2 separate regions of the Homo sapiens genome follow, and region 2 is linked to region 1. Evidence: fine-mapped expression QTL. A gene starts in region 1. The other region holds a variant in brackets. All regions are shown on one strand. Distances are from middle to middle.

Region 1 (12,434 bases):
AACAGCCAACCTCAAAAGTAAGCAACATTTCCTAGTATATCTCAAACTTCTACATGTGCATATAAATTACATTCAGTAGTTAATAACCGGAAATTTATCTTCTATGGAGGAAAGACATGCCAATACAATGGAAAGTCCTACTGCTACTACTAATAAAAATACTCATGGTAAAAATATGAAGAAAAACCAGCTAAGTTTTAAGTTTCAATATGATAGGCAACATAGGCAACAGTGTACAATTTTAAATATTTGACTGGCTTCGTGTTGGGACTTCCGCAGTTTCCAATTTTAGATATTTCAATTTACTGTTTACTTACCTCAATATACAATAGAATACTTAGCAAATAAAATTTCATACAAAAGCCACATAACCAGGACCACTGTTTCGTTTTTACAGGCCATTCCAAATTAAGAGTCAGGACTTTAAAATCGACCACACTGTGCACTGTGGTACAAGTTTTGGAACTCAAGGCGCTTAACTTATTTTAAACCTATACTGTTGTAGGTTCAGTATCCGAACAAGCACAAGTAAGATTCACACAACTCATTTGTTGAGTGTCTTAAATACAGACTTAGAAGCAAAAAAAATTAAAAAGTTTCATCTCATCTGGGAGTTAGTTCATTTGTTAAGTTAAAGGGATTATTCCTGTGAAATCATCTTAAAGGTTTACAGTAAAGAACACAATTCTAAGCTCCCAATCATAAGAAGTAATAGGAACTTCACTGGCATAGTTACTGGCATAAAGGTACAGATTCAATAGTTGTAAGTTTCCTCTAAATTCGGCCAGTTATTTCTAGGGATCTGCCTTCATCAGGTTACATGTAAATACCCATTTTAAACAGAGATAATTGCTCCATGAATATATTAATTCAAGGTAGATTGTGAATAATATGACTGTTCAGCTTCATTTCTATCGCCAAGTTATGTATCAGAAAGAACATCACAGCCTATGGAGACTGAACTAGATTGAAGATTTTGGATCTAAACATACAGAATAATTTCCTGGCAACCCCTTCGTAAATCCATGGCAATTTCAACACTGGGAACTCTTCAGCCTCATTTTTCTTACTTAACAGAACATGACAAACAAGTACTGAGTGCCTGACAATGAGTACAAAAATGAGTAAGAGTCAGCAACCATGTTCAAGAAGTGCAGTATATGCCGCGTTCAGTGGCTCACACCTGTAATCCCAGCACTTTGGGAGGCAGAGGTGGGTGGATCGCTTGAGCTCAGGAGTTTGAGACCAGCCTGGCCAACATAGTCAGACCCCCGTCTCTACAAAATATACAAAAAATTAGCAAGGCGTGGTGGTGCGCGCCTGAGGTCCCACCGACTCGGAAGGCTGAGGCGGGAGGATTGCTTGAGCTGGGGAGGCAAAGGTTGCAGTGGGCCGAGATAGCGCCACTGCACTCCAGCCTGGGCAACAGAGCCAGACCCTGCCTCATTAAAAAAAAAAAAATGAAAAGAACAAAACAAAAGGAGTGCAGTATAGCAGAAAAACAACATTCTCCAAATATGTTGGATTGTATCTGAAATAGCCAAACTTCCAAGATCATGATTCAAGTGGAGCAAATACTTCCTATACCCGTCAATTATATTTCCCTAACTGGAACTCTTTACAACTTGATGTGAAACAATGCAGGTACTGTGAATAGTTCATGGTTCTTAAACTTTAAAGATTATTAGTACAAAACATACAATTCAACATTAGAATAAATATCCAGTATTTAAAGGAAAATTAAAGTAAGGAAACATGTTACAGACCTAAGACCAAATTAAACTTTCTTGGAATCTCTTCAGGAACCTCAAATACCGATACACAGAGGTAATATTTAGGTCCTTGTTTGGGGCAGTATGAGATTACGTTGAAAGTGACTTTTATTTCATCCTCAAAAGTGCTATTGAATAGTTGGAATGACTTCGTTAACTTAAAACATAGTTACGACTTCTTAATCGACTTACAACAACAAACTATGGCATCGCAGAGAGCTTTTTAACGTTTATGAGCTTCATCTCTTTGAGGGTAAAGACAAGCTCCAAAACGGCTTGAGACAATGCTTCGGAAAAATGTTACGTAATTAATACATTAAAACTATACAACTTAATGGTAAGGAGACATTTCATAAAAACTTAACCAGTCGATCCAAAATAATTCCTAATTTTACGTAAGAGGCAAACGGTGAAAGACCGAACATTAACTTTGCCAATCACCTGAAAGGAGCAGCGTGGTAGAACTACCCAGGACCGCCTCAGCACTCAGGGGCAATAGTGAACTACTGAAGCAACAGCTCCACCTACTGATCCACCCTATACTTCCTTAAATATGTTGGCACCCCAAGTCTACAGTGATCGCGCTCTCTCCCCCTCCTCCACTCGCTGTGACCCAACCCAAATCTAGTTGAGTCACTAGCTCTTAATACTCATCCCCGTGCTCTTTATTCCAATTTCTTCTTCCTCCAGAAGGTTCTGCACAGCTCCCAAGCGTGAATTAAACTGAAAGGTGTCAAACACCGCAGTTCCAGAGTTGAGTCTGGAGGTGGAAGACAACCAAACCACTCCACCTGGAGCTGCGGGCCGGCGTGGCTCAGCGGTCCGCTCCCGGGAAGGAGGCCCCGGGCGCTTCACAATAGCCTTTCCATGTTGCCCCACTCGGTCGCTTCTCCCCACTCAACAACCCACACTCGTCTCCGAACCGAAACCCTGAAGCCCCCCGGGTCTTGCCTCCGCTGGCCCTTCAGCCCGCCAACAGCCCGAGCCTCGCCTCCGCCCCCTCCGGGAGCCGAGGGAACTGAGAAGCAGAGAAATCTCCCTCCGCCCGTCTTCGCCCTGAATCTCTCCTCGCCTTTGCGGCTCTCCCCCTCTACATGGGCCCGGACCCTTCTACCCCACCGGCCGGGCCCTGCCCGGCTGCCCTTCCTCACCCTTTCATCTTCCCCGCCTGCTGAGGCCGTCGTTACCACCGATATCAACGCCGTCGTAGTCGCCGCCCTTAGGTCTCCGCACCCTTAGCTCGGGCCACTCAACCCCGCAAGCCGGCCTCCTAGCCTGGGCAGGGAGCTGTGCGAGCAACGAAGGCCGCGAGAGTCGAGTGAGGGCTTGAGTCTGGTGGGGGCGGGAGTGTCTCCCGCCGCCGCGCTTGTGCCGCCGCTTCTCCACACGTGCACTCGGGTCTCTCGGCTCCCTCCCGCCGCTGCCGCCAGCCAGACCCGCTGCCGCGCTGTGACCTTTCACCCCGCCCCTCGCGCGCCGGCGCGCCGCCGCCTCACGCGCAGCCGCACTGCTCGCCTCCGCGCACCCTGCCCCCTCCACTCCGGAACCTCCATCTTTCTCCTGGACTGGGCCTTCTGGGGTCATGCTCCTCCCTCCCACCCGCTTACGACACTGCTTGTGGGGCTGGCTCGGTAGGCCCTGGCGGTAAAATCCAGATTTTTCCACCCCTCCCTCTCTTGTCCCATATCCGCAAGATAGTTTTTCTCAGCCCCGTTCTTCCCAGTTTGTGGTCTCCAGAGTGACCTTCAAACGCTGTTGCCTCCTAGTAGGGTTTTATAAAGTTAGTTCTTCTAAATGTAAAGAAATCTGTGGAAAGCTCAAGTTTAAGTTAGGTGTTTTAAAACAAACGTAGTTAACAATCGGCCAGATAGATTGGCTACCCTCCAGCACGCCTCAAGTTTTAAGATCACGTGATTGGCCCAAACCTCAGAGCCTGGAATTTTACCGGCGGACTCCAGAGGGACGGAACGCCACCGCCATTTCCTGTCCCTCGATTGTGGCGTGAACGTCACTTCCTTAGCAATGCGCTTTAACTCTTGCTGTCCACATTTTCCACATTGTACTTTATAACATACTCTTTGTGAAAATTTATCTTTTATTTCTTTAATCCAAGAAAATTAATATTCAAGGGATCCGTAAAAATTCAGGCCCCCCGAGATGTAGAGCGCTGGGATGGAGGAGGCAGGGCGGAGCTCGACGTCATGTGACTGGTTGGGCCCGCCCCCCCCCCCCCCCCCAACCTGTGCAGCTGAGGACTTCCCCTCCGTGGTGACAGCCTCTGGGTCCTCGGTCGGTACAGTCTCTGCACCTCGCGCCCCAGCAGGTGAGCGGCGACCGGTAACTGGCGAGTGGTGGGGATAGAGGGGGTGGAAGGAGGCAGAGGAAGGAGAGAAGGGAGAGTGTGAACGGCGACTTTTCTGCCTGAGGCTTCCTCCCCGCTGTCACCCTGCACCGGCAAGGAGCTCATTTCTCCTTAACCCCCGCTCCCCCAAGTGTGGTCGTTCCCGCTACTTGGGGATTCAGATGTCCACCTTTCCCAGGGTTGGAAGTGAGTGCGGCCATTATGGTTCCCTACTCAGAGCCTTTGGGGCTTCGGGTAGCAGATTGTTTCAGCCATTTCACAGGGTCTGCAGTAGACATTAGGTCCCATTCCTTAAAGCCCATTCTTTGGCAAAGGTCCTCACTGTCCTTACCCTCAGCTCAGGGCTGAGGAGCGGGGAGGTAGCAAAAACCCTGGAGGCAGAGGCGTCTCCGGTGAGACAGGCTTGGGAGGGACTGTCACTGATACGGCCCTCACTGCAGAGTCACTGTGAAGCTTCCCTCCGAATGTGCTTTCTCAGTGATTCTAAGGATTTTATCTGACATACCTGCAGGGAAGGTTCCGTAGATGTTCACGTGCTTCGGATGGGACTAGAAAAGTAAAAGAAGGGCTTTTACTTTTTCTTCTCTGCAGAGAGGACAGTTGAAGGAATACTGTCTTCAAAACAGGAGGTGTTAGTAATGCGACAGTCTCGATTGAATGAGGAGGCGTTGAAAGATGGTATTGTGGTGTTGTGGTGTGCAGGAGGCCCAGGCTGGTTTAGGGAAGAGTGAGTAGGGTTCCCTGAAACCGAAATAAGAAACTGATTGGGTTGGAAATAGTTAAACCAAATTGATTTGGCCATATGCTTAAAGGTAGAATCAAGTCGAGATGTTGCTGTCTGCACATGTTTTCTGCCGTCAATCCTTCCCTTTTTGTCATTTTCCCCTAAAATACTACTGAATTGGCACTCCCAATCTATTCCTTGATCGGCTTTGTGGTAAATTTAGGTTAAGTAGCATTTGTATCCCTCTTTAGCTTTCCCCATTTGTAAAACTCCCGGTGCCCTCTTCAGATTTTGATGAATAGTATTTTGTGAAAATACAGAAATTGTTGTCCAATTGAAAATACAGGTGTTGTCCAACCCAAGTACTCCCATTCCGTCCATAATGTATTATTACCAATGTTTTGATCCCAAACAATGTGCTTTAGGGAAGAATGTTTTTCAGTTTGTGGTTAAACTCTTTTATTTATACTGCAAACTCAGAAAATTCCATGCTGCTTTTCAATTGAAGGTCTTACGAATATTACAAATTTGATTTTTAAAATTTAAATTACACCTTTCTTAATATGAAAAATTATATGCTCAGTTAAATCTTGTAGTTTTCTAACTAAGGTAATTAAAGAAGACTGCTGGAAAATGAGGAAGATGGAATCATCTTTGGTGGATGTGACTGATTTATTTTTGTTTTTCTGTGTCTTCCAAATTCTATACAATAAACGGTCTTATTTTGTTAAGGAGAATAAAAAGTTAAAATTCTACAATAGCAGCAGTTTAACAAAGTATTTTTATAGTAAGTGCAAAATACATAACCTAGCTTATTGATGCTCCTTAGTAGAAAACATAACCTCGGAGATGTTGCTTTCCCCAAGTAATGAAGATTACTACTATCTCTTGTGGATTTACCATTTTAGCATTTCGTACTTACGACCCATACTGGACAATAGACTAATGTATTGATATATTTATGTCATCATGCCTGCTGTAGATATATATATGTAGTTTTATCCATTAATTTTCTCCATAATAAGGTTCCTTGATCTCTAGAGGAGAGGGGAAGAAAAAAAGGAAGTGTTACTTCAGTGACCAGGTGACATTGCACCACGTAAGGAGAATTCCTTATGTGGTCTGGAAGTCCTAACTAGTCCTGTCTGGCTGAGACCAAAATGTGAAAGAGAAAACCAGCTAGAAGCATTGACTACTAGAGGGGAAAATGTCAGTATGAAAGTGGTTGGATGAGTCTGCAGTTTTACTTCACAATTCCCCCAGTTTTAGGGAACTCGTGAAAGCAATAACTTAGACCACTGATGAAATGTAGATTAGTAGTGGGAATTGGTGATTACATTGCTAGTAAGGTTAAATGTGAAAAAAAGCTTTGACATTATACACAGATCACACACACACACACACACACACACACACACACACACACACACGATTGGAAGCCTGGAAAACATTTCTGAGACTAGCCTTATCAGTTTATGAGTGTTACATGTAGAAATCTTAACATTTATTAGGGAATTGTGCTATAGTCCACTATTAAATAAAGCATAAGGGTTTGGTTTTATTTTAGGGCCCTTGGCACTTCTGGTTTTCTTTTCCTGAGTTCTTGTTTTCAGTGCCTTTATAGATTTTTGCCACCACTAAGAATGCTTTCTTCCCCATGGGCAGAGGTAGCCACTCAGTCCTATAGACTACTACTAATCATCATCATCATCTTTTCTATTCTTCTACTTGCACTTCTAGCATTGTATTTAATTCCTGTTCCCTGGGCTCTTCCTCAGCAAATCATAAAGCTCTCAGGACTGTGAACTATAATACTATTGTGTCTTCAGCACCAGAATACTGAAGTACCTGATAGGTACTCAATAAATTATTTATTGAATGAATGTTGGGCAATTAGACAAAGAAATTAAACCACTTTAATTTTTGCAGATCATAGCTCTTCCTAAAGTTGTGCACTAAATGTTAGCTTTTAAATATAAACTGGTAATAACCTTCCAAATTCATGGTCAATACAATAGATAAAAACCTCAGATGGACTTTATTAATGCTGAGACCAACTTATTTTCACAGCATGTTTGTTTACTAATAAGTATGGTTATCATCAAAATATGGGAGAGAAGGGAAGAGGAATGAATCGTACTAAATGAAAAAGTGGCTCTGCGTGATCTATAAGTGGACTAGCACTAGACTAAAAGTCAGAGGATCTTCATTCAGCTCTGCCACTTTAGTTATATGTCCTTTTACGTAATGCTGGGGAGGGGTTCAGGTTTGATACTTAGGAACCTTCCTATGACATAAACCCTAGGTAATCTATGTGAAAATATCTTAAAAACTAAGTGGTGTCTGTAATCCCAGTGCTTTGGGAGGCCAAGGCGGGCAGATCACAACGTCAGGAGATCGAGACCATCCTGGCTAACACGGTGAAACCCTGTCTTTACTTAAAAAAATTAAAAAAATTAGCCAGGCATGGCGGCACGCGCCTGTAGTGCCAGCTACTCAGGAGGCTGAGGCAGGAGAATCACTTGAACCCGACAGGTGGAGGTTGCAGTGAGCCAAGATCACACCACTGCGCTCCAGCCTGGGCAACAGAGTGAGACTCCATCTCAAAAAAAACAAAAACAAAAACAAAAAAAACTAAGTGGTGTGTAAAATGGTAAAGCAGTGTAGCTCAGACTTTACATGAATTGATTTCCCAGTCATAGAGACCTAGTTGAAGTTCTGGCCCTACCACTTAATAACTGTGTGACTTTGGACAGTGTACTTAAGTAAGGTTAAGTTTTCTCACGTTTAAATCTATAGATGGTGCTATTAAGTTAGATCATGAATGTAAAATGCCTAGAACATATTTTGTAAAAAAAATTTTTAATTAATTTTACTGATAACTACTTTGATTTTATATACTGAATTTCTAAAGACTTAAGACAACCCACAGAATTGACTGATGTCCCTGTGAGCAGCAGGTTTGGGGCATGAAGAAGAGAGTAGAATTTGAAAAGAAGCTATTACCCAAAAAATGGGGGAACAAGAAAAGTGTACTTGTAGCAAAGATTCTAAAACAGATTTATTAATTTTATCTGAAAAATATCAAGATAAAGTCCCTTATTTGGGCAACTGCAGTGTCTTAATATTTTCTATATAAAGATTTTCCAAAGCTTGTAATCATTAATGTATGGAATAAATTTAAGGAGGCAGTTCTTCAATTTTGAAGTTTTTATTCCTGCAATGGATTATAGAAGTATATTAAAATTGTACAGATTGTAGAGCAGGGACTTTTGAGTTAATGCTTATAAGCTTAAAAATTTTGTCTTTTTAAAAAAATTAAGTGTTTTTATATCTTATTTTTATCCTTATATGAAATAGACAAAGAAATGTAGAGAACATAATGGAGACATAAACTAGAGTAAAATTCTTCCCTTCTTAAATTCATGATTCACAAGGGTTAGTAGTTTTGCAATGGAAAATATCAGCAAATTAAACAGTAAGTATAGCTATCATGAGTTTATGAATCACTTTATTCCTGAAAAAAAAAATTACTCATTTGTCTTAAGGAAAGATTTTATTAAGTTTATTGACTTTTCCTTAATGTTGATTGTCTATTATAACAAATGGATTTATTGATTTAGGAATGAATTTATTCTTTATACTAAGTAACTTTATTTTAAATAAATGAAATGTGAGCAATAAAAATGTTTTCCATATAATTTCTGAAGAGAATATTAGTTTTGCTATTCTCTTTTTTCCCTATGGTGAAATGATAGCGACTTTGGTTTTTATAAGTGTATTCATTTATATTTAGTATATACATATTATGTATATACTATATATAGAGTAAATATTTGTAGTATATAAAGTACGCAATGTGTGTGTATGTATATATAAAGACAGCTGAAGTGGTTGTGTATCTTCGTAGTAACATATTTATTTTTACCTGAAACTACTGAAGTGATCTTTAGAATAATGATTTATTTACATTTGAAACTCCTCTTTCTGTATATTTCTTTGTAGTTAGCTCTAGTTAATAAATTTACAACTGTGATTAGCTGTTTTTAAAAATTAATGGTATATCATAAGTATTTTCAGATTTAAATTTTAGAAGGAAACACTTTCTTATATCTTAAGGTTTTAAAAATCACTATTATTTTTGGTATTATTATGACTAACAACAAAAATTTCAGTTTTGGATCTTAATGCTATCTGTTGAAACTGTTCTCTTGGTAAGCCTTTAAAAAAATTTTATCTGCAACATGCCACATTTTGTTTCTTTTCTGAAAAATAATTAAGCTTATTTCACTGAAAATAAAATGGGTGGTATATGATATGATATAGAAGAGTTTCAGATGTGCTTGAGCAATGAAAAGCAACCAGACTTTATAAGTTTTTAGTTCTTAGTTTAATTTTTTTAATGTTTAAAGGTACAATAGAGAAGACTAATTGAATTGGAAAATACCTTTAAAATTGAAAAAAGAGCATATGTATAATAATAATAGTATATACATATGGAAAAAGTTGTAAGGAAATGCATCAAAATAAGTAATTATCTCTAGATTGATGCATTAAAGAAAAAATTAAAATTTATTACTATACCTTCTGTATATTTGAATTCATAATGTCAGTAGGCATTGCAAAATATTTCTTAATTTGATATGGAAAATTAAGGCACCTAAATAATTCTTTCATCTTAACTACTTGGATATCTTAAGTGAAAATGTTTTGTCTCATCCAGGTAGCTGAGTAAGTTATTTAATTTTATAGGTGTGTAAATATATTTTTAATTTTAAGTATATAAGTGCAGCAGAATTTTAAAAAGCAGAGTAAATCTCAGTATATAAGATAATTTACCACATTTCAAAGGGATAATTCAATCCAATGGTGAAAAAGGGCACATATATATCATAAATGTTAACTGATACAACTTGCTCATCTAGAAGAAAATATAATTGATCCAATACATTGCAACAGATGCAAAAACTGATTTCAGATGGATTAGAGGCTTAAATGTAAACAATAAAATATTTAAGATATTAATCTCCTAAATTTCCTTTATACAAACAATCCAGATGTAGTTTTTTAAACCAAGATAGGAAACCTAAAAGTCATAAAAGTATGGATAGACACATGAGACTGCATGGAAACGAAGGATTCTTTAGTGGCAAAAATAAAGGACCAAAGACAAAATCAGGCGGAAAAAAAGGCTTGAGATATATGTAACAGATGAGTTAACCATTGAAAGAACTCTTTCCAATTAAGAAAAAGTTCACCCAGTAAAAATATGGATAAAACATGTCACCAGAAGTTCACAGAAGAGAAATCCAAACATTCAACAAACAGTAAAGGATGTGTAACCTTACTAGTAATCAATATACTAACAATGAAATATTATTTCTCTGACAAGCAAAAATTAAGTGGTAAACCTACTGCTAGCAGGGATATGTGGAGAAGGATTATCTCATAAAATGCTAGCGGAGATGTGAAGTGTTAGAGTTTTTCCTAGTAAACAATCAAGCAACATCAGTTAATACTGAGAATACATGTATTTTCCACCCATCAGTCTAACTCCATGTAATCTTTTCCTTAGAAATAAAAGCACCAGTAAGAGTTTACAGGAGTGTTAGCTGCAACAGTGTTTCAATTTTCAATGTTAGTAGTGGCAAAAAACGTGGAAACAAAGGGAATGCCTGTTAATAGGGGTATTGTTATGTAAATTATGGCCGAGGCATTTTATGGAATGTTGTGAAGTGATTAAATGGTAGGAGTTAAATCTACTGGTGATTAGAAAGGATTTCCAAGTACATTCTGAAAGGATTTCTATCATGTGTCTTTTTTTTTTTTTTTTTCCTGAGACAGGATCTTGCTCTGTTACCCAGATTGGAGTGTACTGGTGCTGTCTTGGCTCACTGCAACTTCCTCCTCTTAGGTTTAAGCTATCCTCCCGCCTCAGCCTCCAGAGTAGCTGGGGCTACAGGTGTGCACCACCACACCTGGCTAATTTTTTGTATATTTGGTAGAGACGGGGTTTCACCTTATTGCCCAGGCCATCATGTATCTTAAGAAAAAAAAATACAAAGTACAGAGAAACATTTGTAATGATAACTCATTTTTTATAAAACCAGTTGAAAAACACCATGAGTTTTGTATATTTTTACCTGGTTGTCACCGTTGGAAAGAGGAAATAAGCAGAAAAGGAAAGAGACAGAATATCCATAGTAACATATTTATATAAAACTACATGTTTGTACATGTCTGTGTATATGATGGATTATGGGAAACAATGGGCACTAAGATGATTTACTTTCTTCCTTACACTTTACATTATATGTTTTTATTTTTACAGTGGACATGAAGTGTTTCTGTAATTAGGAAAAACAGGCTGGGCATGGTGGCTCACGCCTGTAATCCCAGCACTTTGGGAGGCTGAGGCAGGTAGATCGCTTGAGCCCGGTGTTGGAGACCATCCTGGGCAACATGGCAAGACCCCCCTCTACCAGTAAAAACTAAAAATTAAAAAAATTATTTGGGCACGATGGCATGCACCTGTAGTCCCAGCTACTCAAGAGGCTGAGGTGGGAGGATCACTTGATCCCGGGGCATTCAAGGTTTCAGTGAACTGCGAATGTGCCACTGCACTCCAGCCTGGGCGTCAGAGCGACACCCTGTCTCAAAAGTAAGAAAAAAAAAAAGAAAAGAAAAATGTACCAAAAAATGATAGGGACTACTAGATAGGATTACAAATTTGGCATGTTATTTTTGGTATGGATAGTCAGTGCTATCGACACGCTTTCTGCCTTAGAGTGTAGAGCACATTGCACAAGTGTGGGATCTGTCACCTGACTTAATCATATGACAGAATCATAAGAAAAGTCCCTATTTGGGTTTTGGCATATAAACTGGATTACAAGATTAACTTGCCTTAAGAAAACTTTAAACAAGAACTTCTTTAAAGAAGCAAAATAAAAAGTACTTATAATTGTTTAATACTTGATTTCTGTCCTTTTAAAAGTATCTCCGTAGAATACATCATTCAAAGCCTAGACAGAAAATAGCAGATGCTTTAGAGTTGGATTTGTTGCATACTTAAAGTAGCTGTATTTTTTTCTCACATTGGTATTACTTCCCCTTTTCATTACCAGTTTTATTAATTGCATATATGTGCTTTAATGTAAGCTGTCCAAAGTTTTTTTTACAAGAGTTGGGATATATGTAAATAAAAATAATTTTAGAGTAGTATTAATATAACAAAGAGATGAAGGAAACCAGACTGTGTGAGTCAAATCCTGGCTCTGCTTCCTAGTGGTGTGACTTTGGAGGAGTTACTTGTGTCTTTTTGCATTGCATTTTTCTCAACTTTAAAATAAGGATAATAAGAGTATTTAACTTCATTGGATGTTGTGAATAATAGAAGCGATTGGAATAATAACTAGCACATAAGGACCGTATATATATTTGCCAGCTGGGTGCAGTGGCTCACACCTGTAATCCCAGCACTTTGGGAGGCCGATGCAGGCGGATTGCTTGAGCCCAGGAATTGAAGGGCAACATGGCAAAACCATGTCTGTACAAAAAAAAAAAAAAAAAAAAT
Region 2 (12,434 bases), 74 kb after region 1:
GCAAGTTTTGGGAAACAACTATCTTTATTCCATGCTTAGCTATGAAAAATAACATGAGGCCGGGCGCAGTGGCTCACGCCTGTAACCCCAGCACTTTAGGAGGCCAAGATGGGCGGATCACAGGGTCAAGAGATCGAGACCATCCTGGCTAACATTGGGAAACCCCGTCTCTACTAAAACTACAAAAATTAGCTGGGCGTGGTGGCACGTGCCTGTAATCCCAGCTACTCGGGAAGCGGAGGCAGGAGAATTGCTTGAACCCCAGGAGGCAAACGTTGCAGTGAACCGAGATTGCGCCACTGCACTCCAGCCTGAGTGACAGAGCGAGACTCCATCTCAAAAAAAAAAAAAAAAAGTAACATGAGAGACTTAGATTTAAATAAGCATTCTCCCAAATGTTGACTAGTTTTATCATAATCTCAGCATTATAAGATGTTGCAGAACCATTTATCCTTTAAGATGTTCCTTGGTACTTACCTTAAACTGTGCTCTGCTGATTCACATGTATTCTGACTCATTTAGACTCAGAATAGCCTGGCACTCAAAGTTTTCCTAAATCATGAAATTTTAGCAATAATAACTGTAATGCCTATGGATTTTAAACAGGATTCTATTACAGTAGTTTCAGGTATTTTACTGAATGAACCAACAGGTTTTTTTCTGTCCATTTCTCTATACATAGGAGATTTTAAAAAGGAATCAAAATTCTGCAACATATTTTGATGTTGTTATACACAGGCTTAGCTTGTGAACATAATTATAAAGGAGTATAATTTAGTTCCATTTTAAAAAATAGCATTTGTTGGCTATGCACAGTGGCTCACATCTGTAATCCCAGCACTATGGGAGGCCAAGGCAGGTGGATTGCTTGATCCCAGAAGTTCAAGATCAGCCTGAGCCACGTACATAGTAAGACCTCCTCTCTACAAAAAAATTAAAAATTAGCTGGGCATGGTGGCACATGGCTGTAGTCCCAGCTACTTGGGAGGCTGAGGTGGGAGGATCACTTAAACTCAGGAGGTCAAGGCCACAGTGAGACATGATCATGCCCCTTTATTATTATTTTTTATTTTTATTTTTTGAGATGGAGTTTCGCTCTTGTTGCCCAGGCTGGAGTGCAATGGCGCGATCTCAGCTCACCGCAACCTCTGCCTCCTGGGTTGAAGCAATTCTCCTGCCTCAGCCTCCCGAGTAGCTGGGATTACAGGCATGTACCACCATGTCTGGCTAATTTTGTATTTTTTAGTAGAGATGGGGTTTCTCCATGTTGGTCAGGCTGGTCTCGAGCTCCCGACCTCAGGTGACCTGCCTGCCTTGGCCTCCCAAAGTGCTGGGATTACAGGCGCGAGCCACTGCACCTGGCACATAAAATCATATTTATGGCCTTAATTTTTAAATTGCATGTTTTATTTTAAAGTCTTTATAAAGCCCTTTTGACATTTACCCTTATATGATTTATGACAGTATTTCCCCAAGCATGGAATTACAGGTTGAGTTTTCTGGAAGCAGATGAACTTCCAGAGCTCATCTAGGTGGAGCTTGGGATGCAAGTTGTTAACTAGCAATAAACAACTTGGAAAGGAAGGGAGCAAAAGCAGGGTTGGGCAGAAAATAAGTAAAGTACAAAGCAGGCCTGACAGACTTGTCCACTCCTAGGCGGAACCTCTGGAGTTTGCCAGAGTTGACATGCATCAGCCTAAAATGGCCTGGCCTTTACACCTGTGCCTCTCTTGGTTCCCAGATTCAAGATACCTGTGAGAATGTCATCTCAGATTGGGTGGTTTTCAGCAACTGTAGAGTAAGAAGGAGCTGATAGCTGGAGGCTGTATGCTGACCATACTCCTGGCAGCTGGGCAGCAAGCCTTCCGCAAAGGGAAACCTGCACAGTGTACCTCAGTGCTGTGAGATGGTTTTAGGAAAGAGGCAGATGAATAGTATGCATTTTAATGTATAGAGGCAACATTTAGTAGTTTAAATCCATGATTTCAAGGATTTGCTTAAGGAGGCAGCCAAACTATTCAATATTTTTAAAAGTGATTCATTTTTAAAGAACACTATTAAGTACATAAAATCACAGAAGTAAAAAGATATGGCAAAAATGAGGGTGGTTTTCAAATGACAGAAATTTCAGCAACCCTGCTTGTAAGTCAAAAATCGGACTGACTGTTTTAGTATCAGTTAAAATAAGTGCTTACTGGCCAGGCACAGTGGCTCATGCCTGTAAGCCTAACACTTTGGGAGGCAGGGGTGGAAGGATTGCTTGAGTCCAGGAGTTCAAGACCAGCCTGGGCAATATAGTGAGACCCTGTCTCTATTAAAAAAAAGTTTTAGGCCGAGCATGGTGGCTCATGCCTATAATCCCCAGCACTTTGGGAGGCTGTGATGGGAGATCACGAGGTCAGGAGTTCAACACCAGCCTGGTCAACATGGTGAAACCCCATCTCTACTAAAAATACAAAAATTAGCCATGCATGGTGGCATATGCTTGTAATTCTAGCTACTTGGGAGGTTGAGGCAGGAGGATCACTTGAGCCTGGGAAGCAGAGTTTGCAGTGAGCCGAGATTGTGCCACTGCACTCCAGCCTGGGTGACAGAGCGAGACTCTGGCTCAAAAAAAAAAAAAAAAAATTAATTAAAAAAAATACAAGTGCCTACTGAATACCTTTAGAAGGATTCAAGGTAAATGTTAGCCTTGTATTATATAGAAATTCATCATCAAATGCAAACCTCTTCAGGAAGTAAGTACTTCAAAATTAATAGAACATATTTCTTGATATTTGAATCATAACCTGTTGGCATTAACTTTGATTAAACTACTGCCAAATAAGTTTTTGGTTTTGCTTGTTTTTTGTTTTTTCTTTTTGAGGCAGGGTCTCACTTTGTCACCCAGGCTGGAGTGCAGTGGTGCCATCTTGGTTCACTGCAGCCTTGACCTCCTGGGTCAAGGCTCAAGTGATCCTCCCACCTCAGTCCCCCAAGTAGCTGGGACTAAAGGCGCCTGTCACCATGCCTGGCCAGCGAGGCTCTGTCTCAAAAAAAAGAAAAGAAATATTACTTGTAATAGCCCCTGCTGGTGAAATGCACATATTCCCTTTGCCAGGCCAGTTCACATATTCTGATGGAGTATTGGCTGATAAGAATTCGCAGCAGCATATTTGTACTGAAACTTGCCCTCAACTAACAGCAGCTGCCACATCTGGCTAGGCCTGGAAGCTGAAGCCCTCTGTTTTCCCCACCCACACACCCAACTGCACCCAAATCAATATGAGGGTATCAAAGACCAGTCCTCTTGCCTCAAGGTGACACCAGTCTGTGATGCTCCAGCGCTCCCTGTGGGACCAGGCTGAGGAGAAACTTCAGTTGCACCCACATCAGCATCTTCTATTTCTCCTTCTCTCTGCTACTTTCCTCACTCCCTTATGAGTTTCACCTGAGCAGCACGTCCTCAATAAGCCACTTTCACAGGAATCTCATTCTCAGGCTCTGTTCCTAGAGAACTGAAATTAAGACATTTCCTCTTCCACAAAATTCTCACTGAGCAGAAATAACTACTGTGATTTTTACAGTTATATTGAACAGAATCATAGGGTTGTCTTGTTCCGGAAAGTTCTCACTAAAAGAAGGCCTTCAAGTGATATATTAAGAATGTATTAGGCCATGAGCTGTGGCTCACGCCTGTAATCCCAGGACTTTGGGAGGTCGAGGCGGATGGGTCATGTGAGGTCAGGAGTTTGAGACCAGTCTGGCCAACATGGTAAAACCCCATTTCTACTAAAAATACAAAAATTAGCCGGGTATGGTGGCAGACGCCTGTAATCCCAGCTATTCGGGAGGCTGAGGCAGGAGAATCGCTTGAACCTGGGAGACAGAGGTTGCAGTGAACCAAGATGGTGCCACTGCACTCCAGCTTGGGTGACACCCTGTCTCCAGGAAAAAAAAAAAAAAAAAGAATGTATTATTTTGGGCCAGGTGCAGTGGCTCATGCCTGTACTCCCAACACTTTGGGAGGCTGAGACAGGTGGATCACTTGAGATCAGGAGTTGGAAACCAACCGGACCAACATGGTGAAACCCCATATCTACAAAAAATACAAAAATCAGCTGGGTGTGGTGGTGGGCACCTGTAGTCTCATCTACTTGGGTGGCTGAGGCAGGAGACTTGCTTGAACTTGGGAGGTGAAGGCTGCAGTGAGCCAAGATTGTGCCATTGCACTCCAGCCTGGGTGACAGAACGAGGCTCCATCTCGAAAGAAAAAAAAAAGCCAGGCACGGTGGCTCACGCCTGCAATCCCAGCACTTTGGGAGGCTGAGGCGGGTGGATCACAAGGTCAGGAGATCGACACCATCCTGGCTAACACAGTGAAACCTTGTCTCTATTAAAACTACAAAAAATTAGCCAGGCATGGTGGCGGGCGCCTGTAGTCCCAGCTACTCAGGAGGCTGAGGCAAGAGAATGGCGTGAACCCGGGAGGCGGAGCTTGCAGTGAGCGAGATCAAGCCACTGCACTCCAGCCTGGGCAACAGAGCGAGACTCTATCTCAAAAAAAAAAGAAAGAAAAAAAGGAAAAAGAAACATTGTATTCCAAAAAAAAAAAAAAAAGACAGAGAGAGAGAATGTATTATTTTTTCATTAAGATACCTACCCATTTTGAACATTTTTGCATCATTTTATAGAAAGCTTCTTCAATGTGTCAGCCTTCATTTTGAGAGAATTAAGAATTCAAGTCAGCTCCTTCCTTCGTTCCTTCCTTCCTTCCTCCCTTCCTTCCTTTCTTTCTCTCTCTCTCTCTCTTTTGTGATATGGGCTTGCTCTGGGCCCAAGCAATCCTCCCACTTCAGTCTCCCGAGTAGCTGGGACTTCAGGCATGCACCACCACCTCTTGCTAATTAAAAAAAAAATTTTTTTTTTCAAAGACAGGGTCTTGTTATGGTGCCCAGGAGGGCCCACATCTTTTTCTCCAATGTCTTTCTTCTATTCTAGAATTTGATTCACATATAGATGCTGTTTTCCAAAGGTTGTACTTATTTTTATTTTATTTTATTTTTGAGATAGGGTCTTGCTTAGGCTGGAGTGCAATGGCATGGTCATAGCTTACTGCAGCCTTGACTTCCCAGGATCTAGTGATCCTCATGCCTTAACCTCCTGAGTAGCTGGGACTACAGGCACACGCGACCATGCCAGGCTAATTTTTAATTTTTTTGTAGAGACAAGGTCTAACTATGTTGCCCAGGCTGGTTTCAAACTCCTGAGCTCAATCAATCCTCCCTCCTCGGCCTCCCAAAGTGCTAGGATTACAGGCTTCTCAGTCACACTACCAAATTTTTCTTTTTTTTTTTTTTTTTTTTTTGAGACAAAGTCTGGCTCTGTCACCTAGGCTGGAGTGCAGTGGTGTGATCATGGCTTACTGTAGCCTCGGACCTCAGGCTCAAGCAATTCTCCCACTTCAGCCTCCTGAGTAGCTGGGACTTGCCACACCCAGTTAATTAAAAGATTTTTTTGGAGAGATGAGAGCTCACTATTTTGCCCAGGCTGGTCTCAACTGTCAATCTCAAGCAATCCTCCTACCTTGGCCTTCCAAAGTGTTGGGATTACAGGCATGAGCCACCATGTCCAGCCTAGTATCATTTTTATTTTGCCTAGATACCCCTTTTTTTTTTTTGGACAAGGCCTTACTCTGTTGCTCAGGCTGGGGTGCAGTGACACGATGATGGCTCACTGCAGCCTTGACCTTTCAGGCTCAAATGATCAATCTTCCCACCTCAACCTCCTGAGTAGCTGGGACCACAGGCACGTACCACCACACCCAGCTAATTTTTGTATTTTTGTAGAGACAGGGTTTTGCCAGGTTTCCCAGGCTGGTCTTGAACTCCTGGACTCAAATAATCCTCCTGCCTTGGCCTCCCAAAGTGCTGGGATTACAGGTGTGAGCCAATGCACCTGGCCTATACTTACGTTTAAATGCACCATTGTGTGATCCAAGGAAAGATACTCATGAATATTTATATTCTTGCCTCTGCTTCCAACAAACGTAGCTACTCAAAAAATACTACACATTTTATATTTTATATATTTTTAGCATGGGTTTCTAATCACAATGAACACAATTTCTATTTTTATGTTTAGTTGGCTGAATTAACACTTATCCATGAATTATAACTGCTAAATTGCTAATAATCTCGCTAGAGATTTTTATTAAATAATACTCCTGTGGCCTATAAGGTTCAATTAAATAGAGAATGTCATTTCTAAAAATGCCTAATTTTCAGGAAGAGTATTATGTAAAGGAAAACATTGTCTCAACATGTTTGGTAATTTCTTTTTTTTTGAGATGGAGTCTTGCTCTGTTGCCCAGGCTGGAGTGCAGTGATGCGATCTCGGCTCACTGCAAGCTCTGCCTCCCGGGTTCATGTCATTCTCCTGCCTCAGCCTCCCGAGTAGCTGGGACTACAGGTCCCGCCAACACGCCAGGCTAATTTTTTGTATTTTTAGTAGAGACGGGGTTTCACCGTGTTAGCCAGATTGGTCTCGATCTCCTAACCTCGTGATCCGCCCGCCTTGGCCCC[C/G]CAAAGTGCTGGGATTACAGGCGCGAGCCACCGCACCCGGCCATTAATTTCTAAATTTAATTACGCTATCAATAGTTTATTGGAAAACATTTGCTTATTTATTTGTAAAGGCAAAGCATTTTTACTTAAAATAGCAATGCTAAAATTGAGAGGTTGGTGGATATCATTGAGGCAGAAAGGAGAGGAATGAGAGAGATGGCAGGTCAAATTTAGGTAGGTTAATTTATTTAACACCATAGGTTATAGTGCAACATTAGATAATATAAGGCATCTCATTTCAGAAATTGACACAAGTTGTATTTAAATAATTTATAGTTTAATGAAATGTGAATCTGGAAATCTAATATCCTTAGCAAATGACCTAGGAACTCTCTCAGTTTGTACTTTTCTCTTTTCACTCTAACACTGGCTTCTATTTTGCACATATCCTTATTTTACCAGCCTTAAACTTTGTTCTGTTCAGTGGATCTCATTCTATAGTCCCTGGAAATTTTATCCCTTTCTCTACCCAACTTAACTTAAGCCCGCTTTGTTTGTTTGTTTGTTTGTTTGAGATGCAGTCTCGCTCTGTTGCCAAGGCTGGGGTGCAGTGACACTATCTCGGCTCACTGCAACCTCTGCCTCCAGCCTCCCAAGTTCAAGTGATTCTCCTGCCTCAGCTTCCAGAGTAGCTGTGATTACACGCCACCATGCCCAGCTAATTTTTGTATTTTTTGTAGTGACGGGGTTTCGCCACATTGGCCAGGCTGGTCTCCAATTCCTGACCTCAGATGATCCTCCCACCTCGGCCTCTCAAAGTGTTGGGATTACAGGCATGAGCCACTGTGCCCAGCCTAAGCCTGTTTTTCTATATTGGTTTTTTCCTTTTAAGATATATATATATATATGTGTCTGTATATATTTATCCTACAAAAACTATTCAAATCAAAACAAAAATGTTTGTCAATCCAATACTCAATAAGCAACATTTAAATAAAAACATAATTACTTTCATTGTTTATTTACTTAAAAATATTTATTTTTTAAGTAAATGTTTATTTACAGAAAAATATATAGTATTAACATGGACAATTAAAAAAAACATACATATGTATGTACCCATCACTCAGATTAAGAAATAGAATATGGGGCCGAGCATGGTGGCTCACGCCTGTAATCCCAGCACTTTGGGAGACCAAGGTGGGTGGATCACCTGAGGTCAAGAGTTTGAGACCAGCATGGCCAACATGGTGAAACCCTGTCTCTACCAAAAATTTAAAAATTAGCCAGGCATGGTGGCGCATGCCTGTAATCCCAGCTACTTGGGAGGCTGAGGCAGGAGAATTGCTTAAACCCCGGAGGCAAAGATTGCAGTGAGCCAAGAATGCGCCATTGCACTCCAGCCTGGGAGACAGAGCAAGACTTCATCTCCAAAAAAAAAAGAGAAAGAAATAGAATATTGGAGTAACATAGAAGCCCTCACCAATTGCAACTCTCTTCCTTCCCCAAAGATAAACATTACTCTGATTTTTGTGTTAATCAGTGCCTTGTTTTAATTTATAGATATGTCACCTATGTTCCTGTGTAAGCAAAGGGTGACTGGTGTCACTATCAGATTTTTAAAGCCTTTCAGGAGAAAAGAAACTGATCATAATCTGGCGTTAGGTTCCCGGAGAGTTAATAAACAGTCTTTTTTTAGGGAAGTCAGTGAGCAGGAGCCTTCAGGAATCCTGGAAAGCCTAGGACTCAAGCAGACTTTGAGCACCTGGACCAGATTCTGGATGTTTGGCAAAAATATGGTCAGAGAAAATGGACTGTTCTGTGTTTTCTGCTTCTAAACCCATCATAGCTACCTCTCGTTCTCAGGAGTAAGTCAAACCAGAAATCTGTGGGGTGAAGCAGCAGAGCATGGAGGGAGAATAGGAACTTCACAAGCAAAGTACACAAAAGATTCTGAACATGACTCATAGGGAAATTCTGTCTTCAGCTAAAAAGAAGATAAATGGCAATAGGGATCTTGGTGATGACAGCACTCAATCAGCTTGTCTCTTGAGTTGCATGGCTCCAATCTGGACTACTTGCCTTCTATGTCTAGTCTGCAGCTGTCATTCTGGGATCTACCACTTGGGGAATGCCATCTCTATCCTAGTGCTTGTTTTTCATCGCCCACATTTTATCTTTACTGGTTTCTTAATGAGCTGTTTCTCCAGTAGCTTGTTTCTTAAGTAAGGTGGGTGGCATATTTTTTGAGACATATACATCTGAAAATTAAAATTGCCTAGCAGCATGGAGACAAGGAGATGACCTAGGGATATAACTGCTTTTCAAACAGCTTTGACCTGGCCAGAGTGGTGGCTCATGCCTGTAATCCCAGCACTTTGGGAGGCTGAGATGGGCAGATCACCTAAGGTCAGGAGTTTGAGATCAGCCTGGCCAACATGGCGAAAACCCATCTCTACTAAAAATGCGGGCATGGTGGCGCGCCCCTGTAAATCCCAGCTACTCGGGAGGCTGAGGTAGGAGACTTGCTTGAACCCAGGAGGTGGAAGCTGCAGTGAGTCAAGATGGTGCCACTGCAACCCAGCCTGGGCGACAGAGTGAGACCCCATCTCAAAAATAAAAAAATAAAAATAAAGCAAGCAGCTTTGACCTGAGTCCTTATTTTAGCTACAATTCTACTTCTTTCCTTATTTAATCATCAGTGTCACAGGTATTTTGGTGTTGTCTTCCCATGTTTTTTGGGCATTCTGAGGTGTAAATCAGCTTGGTCCTTGGTTGTCCTAGAGGTCATTTTGGAAAGTCAGTGGGCAGGAGCCCTACAGGCAGTCCTGGAAAGCCTAGGACTCACCAGACTTTGAGCACCTGGACCAGACACTAGATGTCTGGCAAAAATATGGTCAGAGAGAGTGAGTTTTATAATTCAGTTGCAATTCATTCCCCTGCCTTTCAGCTTACAAGTTTCTTGCTCTTGCTTCCTCTCCTGTTCTGTCTGTCCACAACTCCTTTTATTGCAATTTGGGTGGGTTTCAGGAAGGAACAAAGTTAGATACATATGTGTACACACACACACACACACACACACACACACACACACACACACTCACACACACACATTTTAAAAATTTTCCTAGGGATGGATTGCTGTGATGCCCAGGCTGGTCTTGAACTCCTGGCCTCAAGCAATCCTTCCATCTGAGCCTCCCAAAAGCTAGGATTACAGGCATGACCCACTTCATTAGGTCTATAAAGATATGTTAACTCACTATTTATGGGTTAGCAAAACTAGAAAAAAGTGATAAAAATTAACAATGACATTTCCCAAGGATCTATACTAAAACTAGTCATACTGAACATTTAACAAATTTGAAAGAGTGAAGTTTGTAAACTCCTTCAAGCTCTTTCTAATATTGAAATGTGAGTTACAGAGCTGTACTTCAGGAACACTCTACTTAGTGAAGGGGCAAAAAGTGGCATACCATCGGTAGCCCACCTCTGGGCCTCCTTGGGATAAAATAAAGAGGTGACCCTAGGACTGCTGCATGCTTCTGAGCACCCTATCTATTTCCTCAGCACTCATTTCTTCCCCACCAGCCCTGCCCTTAACTCCAAAACTCCCTCCCTAGTGCGTTGTGGAATTCAGGATCAGACATGAACAAAATCTTTTTTTTTTTTTTGAGATGGAGTCTTGCTCTTTCACCCAGGCCGGAGTGCAGTGGCACTATCTCGGCTCACTGCAAGCTCGGCCTCCTGGGTTCATGCCATTCTCCTGCCTCAGCCTCCCGAATAGCTGGGACTACAGGTGCATGCCACCACGCCCGGCTAATTTTTTGTATTTTAGTAGAGGAGGGGTTTCAACACCATGTCGCCCAGGCTGGTTGTGAACTCCTGAGCTCAGGCAATCTGCCTGCCTCGGCCCCCCAAAGTGCTGGGATTACAGGCGTGAGCCACCGCACCCAGCCAACAAAATCTTCTATAACCTAAGTTCTTTGAGTTTTCTCTGAAAATTCTCTAAAAATCTTTCTTCATCTTGTTCTAACTCAAGGGTGTCCAATCTTTTGGCTTCACTGGGCTGCATTGGAAGAAGGATTGTCTCAGACCACATATAAAATACACTAACACTAGGCCGGGCACAGTGGCTCATGCCTGTAATCCCAGCACTTTGGGAGGCCGAGGCAGGCGGATTGCCTGAGCTCAGGAGTTTGAGACCAGCCTGGGCAACACGGTGAAACCCCGCCTCTACTAAAATACAAAAAATTAGCCGGGCGTGGTGGCATGCACCTGTAGTCCCAGCTACTCAGGAGGCTGAGGCAGGAGAATTGCTTGAACCCGGGAGGCAGAGGTTGCAGTGAGCCAAGATCGCACCACTGCACTCCAGCCTGGGTGACAGAGCGAGACTCCATCTTAAAATAAAATAAAATAAAATACACTAATACTAATGACAGCTGATGGCAAAAAACTCTCATAATATTTTAAGAAAGTTTACGAATTTGTGTTGGGCTGCATTCAAAGCTGTCCTAGGACGCATGTGGCCTGTGGGCCACGGGTTGGACAAGCTTGCACTGATACTTGGTTTTCCCCTGAAACTTGAGAGGAAACGGCTTTCCCTGAAGCCCTCTCAAGTGGTGTCTGTTTCCTCTCCCACACCATCATATCACTTGTAACTTCCCATTGATCTGGCCTTCTTTGATCCTGGCCTCCATTGGCCTCCAATCAATAAGGCCTCCATTGATCCTGGCCTCTATCATTCATGCCCTGTGGAGTCACCTCCCTCAGTGAATCAGAGCTGACTGACCCCAATAGAATGCGGTGTAAATGATAGTCTATAACTTCCAAGGTTAGGTCATAAACGGCACTGTAGTCCTCACCTTGGTATCCTGGATTACCTGCTCTGAGGAAAGGCACTGCCATGCAATGAGGACTGAAGCAGCTCTGTGAAGATGTCCATATGGAGAGGAATTGAGGTCCCAAACCAATAGCCAGTACCAGGTGCCCGGCCATGTAAGTGAGACACCATAGAAGTGGATCCTCCAGCCACTATCAGGTCTTCTGATGACTGGATATCCACTTGATTAAGGGCAACCTCTGAAAGCCCATGAGCTAGAACTGAGGAGCTGAGCTGCTCCAGGTTCCTGACCCACAGAAACCATGAAATAATGAATGATTATTGTTTTCAGCCACTAAGGTTTTGGGTGATTTGTCATGCAACTATAGTAGCTGGAGCACCAATGGGCCCAAGAAAAAGTGATTGTCTTCTTTTTTCCTATTACTTCCAGACTCTTTTCCTTCACTCTTCCCTAACACTCTATCTTTGAATTTCATGTCAGAACACTATGCCACCAGTTGCCTTTTCTTATTGGAGTCATCTATAAACTCACAATCCATGTTCCCTTTTTCATTGAAGATTTTTGCTCCTTGCTCATGTCGCTTTCTTCTACCCTACTCTTTCTGCACTTGGTGATTTCAATAGCCACTAAGGTTATACTTTCAATTCCTGGTTTCTTAGTGCCTTGTCCTCTGCCCCAACAATCTGAACCACCACTCCTGTCAGCCACCCACTCTCATGCTCATATCATAGAACTTATCATTATAACTGCAATTTGTCCACAATCTCAGTTTCAAGTACCATTTGTATCTTTCCAACTCATCACTTCTATCACCAGCAGTCCTTTAATCTCAACTAGATTTACAAACATTTAATCCTCACACTTTCATTGGCCTTGACACTCTTATGACCTTATTTTGCTTCTTAACCCTGCTTGGACTCCAGGGGCAATCATTATTGCCAAATCCTTGCATACATACTTATCTCCCTTGCTTCTCTTGTGACTTAGCGTACTTGCCTGGTAAAAATCAACCTTAGGCTGGGTGCAGTGGCTCACATCTGTAATCCCA

What was found. PIP is the estimated chance that this variant, and not a neighbour inherited with it, causes the effect.
Region 2: its variant is fine-mapped to the expression of ATP6V1A in whole blood (INTERVAL, PIP above 0.99).

What each region holds. Positions count from the first base shown.
Region 1 is chr3:113,743,019-113,755,452 of GRCh38, forward strand. ATP6V1A (ATPase H+ transporting V1 subunit A) reads left to right here and starts at 4,017. Exons shown (of 15, transcript NM_001690.4): 1 at 4,017-4,095. It overlaps NAA50 (N-alpha-acetyltransferase 50, NatE catalytic subunit), which reads right to left and starts at 3,231. Exons shown (of 5, transcript NM_025146.4): 1 at 2,924-3,231. The coding sequence starts at 2,931. RefSeq lists enhancers at 2,075-2,811, 2,415-2,564, 2,812-3,547, 3,548-4,283, 3,605-3,974 and a silencer at 3,135-3,254.
Region 2 is chr3:113,816,740-113,829,173 of GRCh38, forward strand. It overlaps a transcript of GRAMD1C not described here. Among named protein-coding and RNA genes, the nearest start is that of GRAMD1C, 16 kb to the right of the region's middle. The variant C/G (reference allele first, on the strand shown) is at 6,564.